Linked DNA regions of Homo sapiens. The protein of the gene in region 1 purifies or fractionates together with the protein of each later gene. This does not show direct contact. Each region holds a gene or a part of one and is shown on either strand. Other genes may lie near its edges.

Region 1 (5,067 bases):
TGCAACTGGGTGTGTCTTCATTGTTTGTCTGCCTGTATACCTACCAGTGCGCACAAAGGCCCTGCCAGGTGCCCATTATTAGCCCTAATTTGCAAATGAGGAGACTTAGCTCTGGGCAGGGAGTGGATCTGCTCAAGGCCACACAGCAAGTCAGGAGCGGCAGGGCAGGTGCCCAGCATCCTGCCGCCTGGACGCCACAGCGGTCCTGTGTGTCACCCAGGGGGACTAAGTGAATTGAGCAGATCCTCCTTCTCCCCATCCTAGCCTCATCCTCACTTTCCCTTCCTTTTCCTTTCCTTCTCTTCCCTACTCCGGATGCTGGGAGCCAAGGAAGAAAGGGAGAGAAGGGAAGGAATGGATTCTGGAGGGAACAGATATACCACCACGGACTTTGTGGTCATTCATTCACCTCCAGGGAGCCCAAGAGTTAAAATACCCACAGGGACATTGGGCAGGGGAGGTGGAACCCCCCAATACACTCCCATCCAGTGCTTTTGTGCAGGGCTCTCTCTAGCCCGTTTGGCCAAATTTGGGGCCAAGGTAAGGGGAGCTGATCAATCTTTTAAGTTCCTGCAGCCATGGCTCCTGCGGGCAGCCTCTCCCACCCCTCCCTTGCCCGACCCTCTCCCCTGGGCTCCACTGTCCCAGCTCCTTTCTGCCCAGGTGCTCCTCTGCCCTTCCAGCTGTGTCCCTGCCAGCTCTGGCCTCTCCCTGACATCTCTTCCTGTCACTTGACCCACCCAACTTTCTGTTACGTCCCCAGAGACCTTTTTAGGGATTTGGAAGACAGGGCAGGAAAGGGAAGGAGGAAAAAGGACCAAAAAGTCAACAGCAAAAACAAAACAAAACAAAACTGAAATGAAAATCAAAAATCAAGACAATCAAATGGGTAAAAAGGAAAAGGCAAAAAAAAAAAAAAAAAAAGAAAAGAAAAGAAAAGAAAGAAAAAAGAAAGAGAAAAGAAAGAAAGAAAGAAAACAGGGGAAAAACAAGAAAAACACCCAGAATAAAGCAAGGCTTAACAGGACCAGGAGCAGGGACTGGGTGGGGAGGGAGGCCTCGGGCTTCTGGAAAAAGGCAGCCCATCTAGGGGTAGCCACAGGGCTCTGAACAACTGGCCCCAAGGCTAGGGATGAAATGTTATGCCTTAAAAACAAAAACAAAAAAACTTGGCCCCATTGTTTCAGAAATTTCCAAAAACTGTACAGAAATCACAAGGCACAAAATTGCCCTGCCAACCCCGGCTGCTGGGAATGCCCAGTGCCCTGCATGCCAGCCAACCTCTGTGTCTAATGTGTCAGCAGCAGGTAACTGTCAGGGAAACCAAGACAACAACGCTTAGTAAAAGCAGCCCATCTAGTAAACTCTTTCAATATATGAAGGTCACAATGGAAGATAAAAATTACACAAATTTAGAAACGGCAACGTGGCCCCACCCCTCCATGTTTACCAATGGGAAGGCGAAGGCAGGCGCGTCAGGTGGCCACAGCCTTTGTGGTCAAGCCTTGCTCAGGCCAGAGTCCCCCACCAGGGTGGGAGGCTCAGGCAGGGCTCAGGGTTCTGGGGAGTAAAATTTTTAAAAAGGGGGAAAAAAAAAAAAGAGAGGAAGAAAGAAAAGAAAAACAGCGAGAAGCAACGGGGAGCATGCCCGAGTGGGCAAGTCTTACGGCCTTCTTGCCCGGCCCGTCTCCCAGGGCAGCGACGATGGCAAAGTACTGAATGACCCGCTTGGTGTTAACCGTCTTACCGGCCCCCGACTCTCCGCTTGGACGACACAAACATGAGTCACCAATGCCCATCTGGCCTAATTCTCCCCCACCCCCAATGCCTCACCCCTCAAGCAGAGCCCTCCACCTCTCCTTCCCCCCAGCTTGAAACCCCCAAGGATGGATCAACCCTCAGAGGTGTACAAAGCAAGCCAGTGTAGACCATCCCTGTGAGATGACAACACACGATGATGCCATTGTCCACTACGGACTAACTCAGTGCCCGGCACTTTACTCCATTGGCTCAGTTACAGCTCAGAAAACCCTGGAAGGCAGGCTCCATTATCACCCCCATTTTAGGAACAAGGAACTGGGCCTCAGGAGTTCTGTGGCTGTCCCTGCTGTGTGCCAGGCACATATATCAACTCACTGACTCATAACTTTGTGTGGTAGGTAGGATTTTTTATTTAACTTTTCAATTTTTTTTTTTTGGTAAAGATGGGGTCTCGCTATGTTGCTCAGGCTGGTCTCAAACCCCTGGCCTCAGGCAATCCTCCTGCCTCAGCCTCCCCAAGTGCTGGGATTACAGGTGTGAGCCACCACACTCAGCCGGGCCCGTCTGGGTTAAAGGTACTTGCTTTTTTTTTTTTTTTTTTTTTTTTCGTGAGATGGAGTCTCATTCTGTGGCCCAGGCTGGAGTGCAGTGGCGTGATCTTGGCTCACGGCAACCTCCGCCTCCTGGGTTCAAGCAATTCTCCTGCCTCAGCCTCCTGAGTAGCTGGGATTACAGGCACCTGCCACCACGCCCAGCTAATTTTTTGTATTTTTAGTAGAGATGGGGTTTCACCATGTTGGCCAGGCTGGTCTCGAACTCCTGACGTCAAGTGATCCACCCACCTCAGCCTCCCAAAGTGCAGAAATTACGGGCATGAGCCACTGTGCCCGGCCAAGGCACTTGCTCTTAACTGCATACGCGCATGCACACTCACACTAAACATTGTCCATATTGGCCTGACTGGACATGAGCCTGGCATGTAAGAATTATTCTACCATTTTCCCACAGAGGCAATGGAAAGATCAGAGGTAAGATTCAGACATAAGTAGATGGTAAAAAGGAGGAAAAGCAGAGGAATCTTTCCGCTGCCCCTGAGCCAGAATTAGAACCCCAGAGGATCAAGGTGGGAGATTCCAGGCCCCGGGGAGAGGAGGTGTGGGGCTGGTGGTCACTCCGTTTGTGGGTGTCCCCTCCCTATCCCCCATCAAGAACACATCTGTTCAGAATGGGGGCAGGGAAAGTGCTCAGGCCTAATTTAGCTTCAGCTGGGACACTAGCTCCAGGTGGTAAAAGTCCTGGCCTAAGCACTTTGGATTCAATCCTGGGAAATGACTGTGGTACCGCCCTCTTTCTGCCAGATGGCCAGCATTTTCCACCCCACCCCCAGAGCCCCACACTCACGTGATCAGCATGGACTGGTTGTCTCGGTCTGGAGGAAAGGGAAGGGGATAGAGAAGTCAGCCAAGGTGTGGGGCCAGCCACAGGTGGAACACCCTGGGTATCCATCTGGGGCAGACCCCACCACCCAGAGCCAGGAATGGGAAGGAGCAGGTGGGGCTGTCCCTAGTGGAGGTCAGCTCCCATGCGGAGGGACAGAACGGCTGGGCGACCATGTCCAGCAGCGTCAAAAGGGGGGCAGTGCCAGTGGGGGAAGGGGGTCCCTTACAGAGGCCTCCCGGGACCGAGGTCGGGGTCTGCGGTTGGGGAGGAGTCCAGGCGGCCCTTACTGCGCAGCATGTCGTTGTAGGCGTTGTCCGCCACCGCATATATATGGGGCGGGGAATCTGAGCGGCGCTTTCCCTTGTAAGCAGCCACTACGGAGGCCGTATAGACTGGGAGCCATTTGTAGGGGTTGATGGTGACACAGAAGAGGCCTGAGTAGGTCTGAAGAGAGAGTATAGGTAGGGTTTATGTTGTTGTTTTTGAGATGGAGTCTTGCTCTGTCTCCCAGGCTGGAGTACAACGGCATGATCTCGGCTCACCGCAACCTCCGCCTCCTGGGTCCTGCCTCAGCCTCCCAGGGTAGCTAGGACTACAAGCGCGTGCCACCACGACCGGCTAATTTTTGTATTTTTAGTACAGACGGGGTTTCACCATGTTGGCCAGGCTGGTCTCGAACTTCTGACGTCAGGTGATCCGCCCGCCTTGCCCTCCCAAAGTGCTGGGATTACAGGCATGGGCCACCACATTCTCCCCCCATAGGTAGGGTTTTGGGAGGGATACGCAAGTTCCCATCCCCAGGCCCCAGGCCCCAGTCTTCAGAAGAACCCTGCGATATTCCTCAAGGAGCTACTTGACTTGCCACACCACACCCTCTGTGGCCGTCCTGGCCTCACCCCTGACTTGTGCTCACAGCCCTGCCCCAGCCCACACGCACGGCCTCCATAGTCCGCAGGTGAGTTCTAGACCCGCCCCGCACTGCTACAGCTGCTCCCCTAAGGTCCCAAGGCCCAACCTCCAGCCCCGCCCCCACTGCTCAGAGCCCCGCCTCATCGCTCACAGCCCCACCCCCGCTATGGACCCGCTCTATCATTCACAGCCCCGATCCACCGCTCACAGCCCCGCCCCACCGCTATGGGCCCGCCCCCAGCACCTCATCTCTAGCCCCGCCCCACATACAAGCCCCACCCCGCCCATGGCCCGGGCCTGGGGCTCACATAGATCATCCAGCGGGCATAGCGCTGGCGCAGGTTGTGCAGCACAGAGGCCTCGTTCAGGTGCGTCATCATGGCCATGTCCTCCAGTAAGTCGAAGCGAGGCGGGTTCATGGGCTGCAGCTCGGCTTCACGCACCATCAGCACCTACCAGGGAGATCGTGTCAGGGGCCGGGGGACCGGGAGGAACCGACCGACCTCACCTGTCACCCCCACCCACATACCCAGACCCCCTTCAACCAGAGGGCAGATCCTGTTGGCCAGGAGGCCTAGGGACAGAGAGGCTAATCTCAGGAAAGGGGGAACGGAACCTTCTGGTCTTTGGTCTCCACGGTGACTCTGCCCCCGGTAGCCTCCGACTTGACCTCGGCCTCCACGTAGGCGTCCTGTTCATCAGGCACCCAGACTCGCTTCTTCCCTGGGTTGCAGAGAGAGCTCTGGACTCAGAGAGGGGCTGAGGCACCTCCAGGTTCTAGCTGGAGTTCCCAAGCCATGGTATCCATACAGCTGTGACCCTCCCCAAAGCCCCTCTGCCAGGACCCAGGAGTTCCAGTGAAGAACCCTCCAAACCCAGGCTCAGGAAGGGCGGAGCTGGGAGGGTCCCTAGAGATCCCCTTATTGGAGGATGAGTCTGGGTTAATGGTTGGGTTCC
Region 2 (4,668 bases), on another chromosome or scaffold:
TGAAATTCACCTGGTGGGAATTTCTAACCTGTACGGAGACAGGCTTTTTATCCCACTTGTTTCCACATTCCTCTGGGAGTGTTACATAAAAAGGCATGCGCATCATATTACCTTTTTAAAGTCCCAAAAATTCTAAATTCTGAAACATCTAACTTCGAGGAGTGTAGGTAAGGAATAATGGGCTTGTATTGTTACTCCCACTTTACAGACGAGGAAATTGAGCTGCATAAGGTTACTTCATTTGTCAACGAACACACAACTAGTAGAAGTGGAGCCAGACTGGCTACAGGCAGTCTGCTAACAGAGTCTGTGCAATGCTGCCTCTTTAGTAAGCAAGGACAGAAAAACAGAACACATTCCCTGGAACAAAGGGAAGGTCAGAAAAAAATGTGGTGTACCAGGAACTGGCAAACTGTCCAGTCTGACAGCAGCACAAAGTAGAAGTGACCAGGGAGAAAGAAGAAGTCAGGGATATCGCAGCGAAGGCCCTGAGTATCAGGCTACAGTCATACCATTAAAAAAGGGTAGGAAAGCCAGAAAAAAATGCTTTGGGTAGAAGGTAAGTTAGTGTTTGGACATACAAATACCTCAACCTAATACTTCAGATTATAATTTAAAATGACCCAAATGCCCTGCAACAGAAAATGAGCTAAGTAGATTATGAAATATTAAAAATATTAAAAAGACTTAAAATATGGATAAATGTTTGTAAGTGGGAAGAAACAAGCAAGACATAAAACTGTATACATAGTTGTACCTATGTAATACAAAACACAAACATAAGGGGCACAAAAAAGTCCAGCATCCAAATGTCTGAGCAACATATGAGTGACATTTATTTATTTATTTGTTTGTTTGACAGAGTCTCGCTCTGTTGCCCAGGCTGGAGTACAGCGGTGCAATCTCAGCTTACTACAGTCTCTATCTCCCAGGTTCAAGCAATTCTGCTGCCTCAGCCTCCGGAGTGGCTGGGATTACAGGCGCCCACCACCACGCCGAGCTAATTTTTGTATTTTTAGTAGAGACAGGGTTTCACCATGTTGGCCAGGCTGGTGTAAAACTCCTCACCTCAAGTGATCTGCCTGCCTCGGCCTCCCAAAGTGCTGGGATTACAGGCATGAGCCACCGCGCCCAGCCTATGAGTGACTTTTAAAAAGTCTATTTTCCAAATTTTCTTCAATATGCTGGTATTATTTTGATAATATTTAAAATGTTGAAACATTCTACAGGTGGGTATTCTGCACTTCACAGCACTCCAAGAGCCCTACAAACACCAGTCCTCAAGAATCTCATCTGGAAAACAAACAAGGGCTACATTTGTGGATGAGCACACACAGGCCCCATTTGACCCACTAGAATATAAAAGGTGAGAAGGAACATTCCCTTTGTGAGGTCACCCACCGGGCACAGCAAAATGGGAGGCAGCCAGGTCAAGAAGTCTCCCCACTACCCCATGCTTTATATCTCAAACCTTGATGGTCTTCCAAACTGAGCAACATAATTAACACAAGTCTTTTGAAGGATCTTCACCAACTCACCTATGTAATCTGGGTATGTCCCATAGGCAAACAGGTTCAACAACTGCAAATAAGCAGCATTAGCTCCTTCCGCAAGCTGAAGAGGAAAAAAAAAGTTCACCACAGACCAAACTGTCTACCAATCACTGTAGTGTTCAAACAGAGGACGGGTGAGCATGTGTCAAAGATGCCATGGCTGTTTATTCTGTACTATTTGATTACTTGGCCCCTGGGGTCTCTACCAACTCTGGTTCTTCGGGAAAAAATAAACAAGATTATTAAAGCCCCAAATTTAATTTCTCTCTCTCAGGAATGTTTTACTTTCTATACAGCATGCCCAACGAACTGCTTTTCTCTCACACACACATACAAAGCATTAAGCATTGGAAGGAGTTCAAATCTTCTCAAGATTCTGTTTGCATTAAAACAAAGACTGGAGCAGCCCTATCTACATACCAGCTTGGTAGGTATGGCATGAGCCACCACCAACCCAAAGTGAACAAAGCTCAGGGTTGGTTCCAAGTTTCAGGACTACACGTGGACTATGAACCCTGGGAGAGACCAGCACATCATAAGGTATGACAGAAAGCCAGGCTGGGACAGAAAACCAGGGTATCAGTCTGCCCCAAATCAAAATGTTCATTAAAATTACTTACTCTTCACTGATGCTGATGGCAAAAAGCCATGTGTAGAAGAAAAACGAAAGAGCCACTGTTCTGCCTGGAACTTCTCTGCTGTCAATTACGTTAACTGGTTGTTGTTGTTGTTGTTGTTGTTTAAATCACAAACGTGGGCCGGGCGCGGTGGCTCACGCCTGTAATCCCAGCACTTTGGGAGGCCGAGGCGGGTGGATCATGAGGTCAGGAGATCGAGACCATCCTGGCTAACAAGGTGAAACCCCGTCTCTACTAAAAATACAAAAAATTAGCCGGGCGCGGTGGCGGGCGCCTGTAGTCCCAGCTACTTGGGAGGCTGAGGCAGGAGAATGGCGTGAACCCGGGAAGCGGAGCTTGCAGTGAGCCGAGATTGCGCCACTGCAGTCCGCAGTCCGGCCTGGGCGACAGAGCGAGACTCCGTCTCAAAAAAAAAAAAAAAAAATCACAAACGTGCTCCTGTTACCCTTCCAACTTACCAAGCCCAGTAAACTCTAAACAGGAATAGCAAGTGGTAGTCTACAGACAGCAATAGCGATACTACTCAATTTTAGCCATTAAAAAAAATAAAGCTTCCAAGAAATGCATCTATAATTTCAGATCACTGAAAGGCAACCAGCTTATTCTCAGCTCACATATGGAAAAACGCAATGTATGGGGAGATAAAGGTGGTCTGCTAAGCACCCTATGGAGAACTCCAGCACCATAATACCTCAGGCTACTTTCTCAGGTTACCACAAACCTCCTGAAGTCCCTGAATCAGAAGGGGAAGAAACCTGGTAAAGACCATCCAATCTAGCCCCCCTTTTCAGAAACATAATTAACAAAACTAGCCGGAAAAGAGCATTTTCTCCAGAGCAGATACTCCAACACTTCTCCCACTGGCCTAAATCAATAAGGTCTTTCTGACTTTACTTTCCATCCATCTCCTCTTAGCCAATCTTCCACAGTTACAAAACAACTACTTGGCATATTCATGCAGGCTGTTCATGAACCTGAAGGAACATATTACCCCTTGGTCATCTCTTGTGTTGAAAAATGAACTCAGTTTTCTGAAATTTTCTTCATAAAACTCATTTTCCACTTCTGGTAAATTAAATTTTTATTGAAAGCCTACTGTGTGTCAGGCTACGTATTCAGCTCTAAAGAAACAATGGTGAGCACTACAGACCTCCTCACAGAGTTTATAGTTCGGCAAGCAAGGCTGACATTAAATAAAAATTTACAGTGAAAAAGTAAAAGTGGCTCTTCTCATCTCTGAACATCACAGGTAGAGGAGACATAATTGGGCACCTGAAATGGCTGGACTGTAGGGAACTGCTCCAGTTTCCCCATCAAGAGGAATAGGCAGACACACAGCACCGAATCCAATAAACTGAAGGCCGGCAACTCCTTTGGTTACAACTAACTGATTCACTGAAACTCCTGTTAAAACTGACTGTGGGTGTGGAGCCAACAGCAAAGGTGTTGTGGTGGTCATGAAGGTGATAAACTGCCCAACAAAAGCAAACCACCTCCTATATGCAAATCGCCACCACCAAGAACTCCGGGGCCACTCTCAACAGCATCCAGCACATGCTCCACAAGAAGTACCATCACCCAGATCTATGCATGGCAGCTTCCACAGAGCCAGCACCAGTCTGCATAGCCAGAAGCCTGTGAGGATGAAGAGGAAGGGGACCTGCCCCACCAATCCGCCAAAAGCTCCTGAGCACCAGCCTCCACCCCACAAAACAATAAAGATGCTTACAGACTTTTCTCAATAAGTGAATAAATATAAATAAATAAAAATGTTCAAATTGGAAAGTAGAGGTTGAGAAGTATAGATTGCTTTACATCTCTTTGTTCCTTCTGTTCAATGGATCTTCTCATTTTTGAGGCACAATGACCAAAACTGGATATCCAAGGTTTTAATAACAAGCAAGCAAACAAGTAAAATGAACTATGTCCTAGCTTTTCATGTCATATCTAACACATCTAACACATTTAGCACAACACTGCCCTTTTCCTCAAGAACAATACACTCCTATTCATGTCCATCTTATGTTCAATAGCAGTATGTTTCTGCTGTGTGTCCCTGACCAATCTTCCTTATCGATATTGCACTGGAGGTTTCTGGTCCTTAAGAATGCATGAATCTACTCCTATTAAACAGCCCATGCTTACAGCACTACTTTTCTAATTTATCAGGATCAATTTGACTTTTTTACTATCTTTTAGGTTATTATTAGCAACAATCTAATTTTACCCAAGGTAAGATAAAAATACTGGATAAAAGGAGCCAAGGATATTCTCTCAATCTCTCCCTCTGCCCCACCAATTCCCATCTGTCTCACAATAGGGTACCTCACAGGTTCACAATACTTCAGCACTGAAATTCTTTGGAAACCTGGAGAATTACAGAGTCTTAGAATAAAGAGAAATTGTTTGCAAACCGTTCTTACCTCCTGCACGTTGGCCAGCTCCAGAAGTTCTCCAAAGACATACACTCCGGGAGC

What was found. Proteins that work in one complex are often made in the same cells at the same time.
Region 2: the proteins of MYH7B (region 1) and COPS7B purify together in Homo sapiens (affinity purification with mass spectrometry; one large-scale study listed by BioGRID and IntAct). This does not show direct contact.

Annotation. Positions count from the first base shown.
Region 1 is NC_000020.11:34,979,156-34,984,222, reverse strand, and holds part of MYH7B (myosin-7B), read right to left. Parts: intron 4,834-5,067; coding exon 4,727-4,833; intron 4,563-4,726; coding exon 4,419-4,562; intron 3,646-4,418; coding exon 3,489-3,645; coding exon of another isoform or gene 3,428-3,488; intron 3,191-3,427; coding exon 3,163-3,190; intron 1,765-3,162; coding exon 1,668-1,764; intron 905-1,667; exon of another isoform or gene 1-904.
Region 2 is NC_000002.12:231,788,679-231,793,346, reverse strand, and holds part of COPS7B (COP9 signalosome complex subunit 7b), read right to left. Parts: coding exon 4,615-4,668; intron 4,609-4,614; exon of another isoform or gene 2,174-4,608; intron 1,615-2,173; coding exon 1,539-1,614; intron 1-1,538. UniProt on the Homo sapiens protein: Component of the COP9 signalosome complex (CSN), a complex involved in various cellular and developmental processes.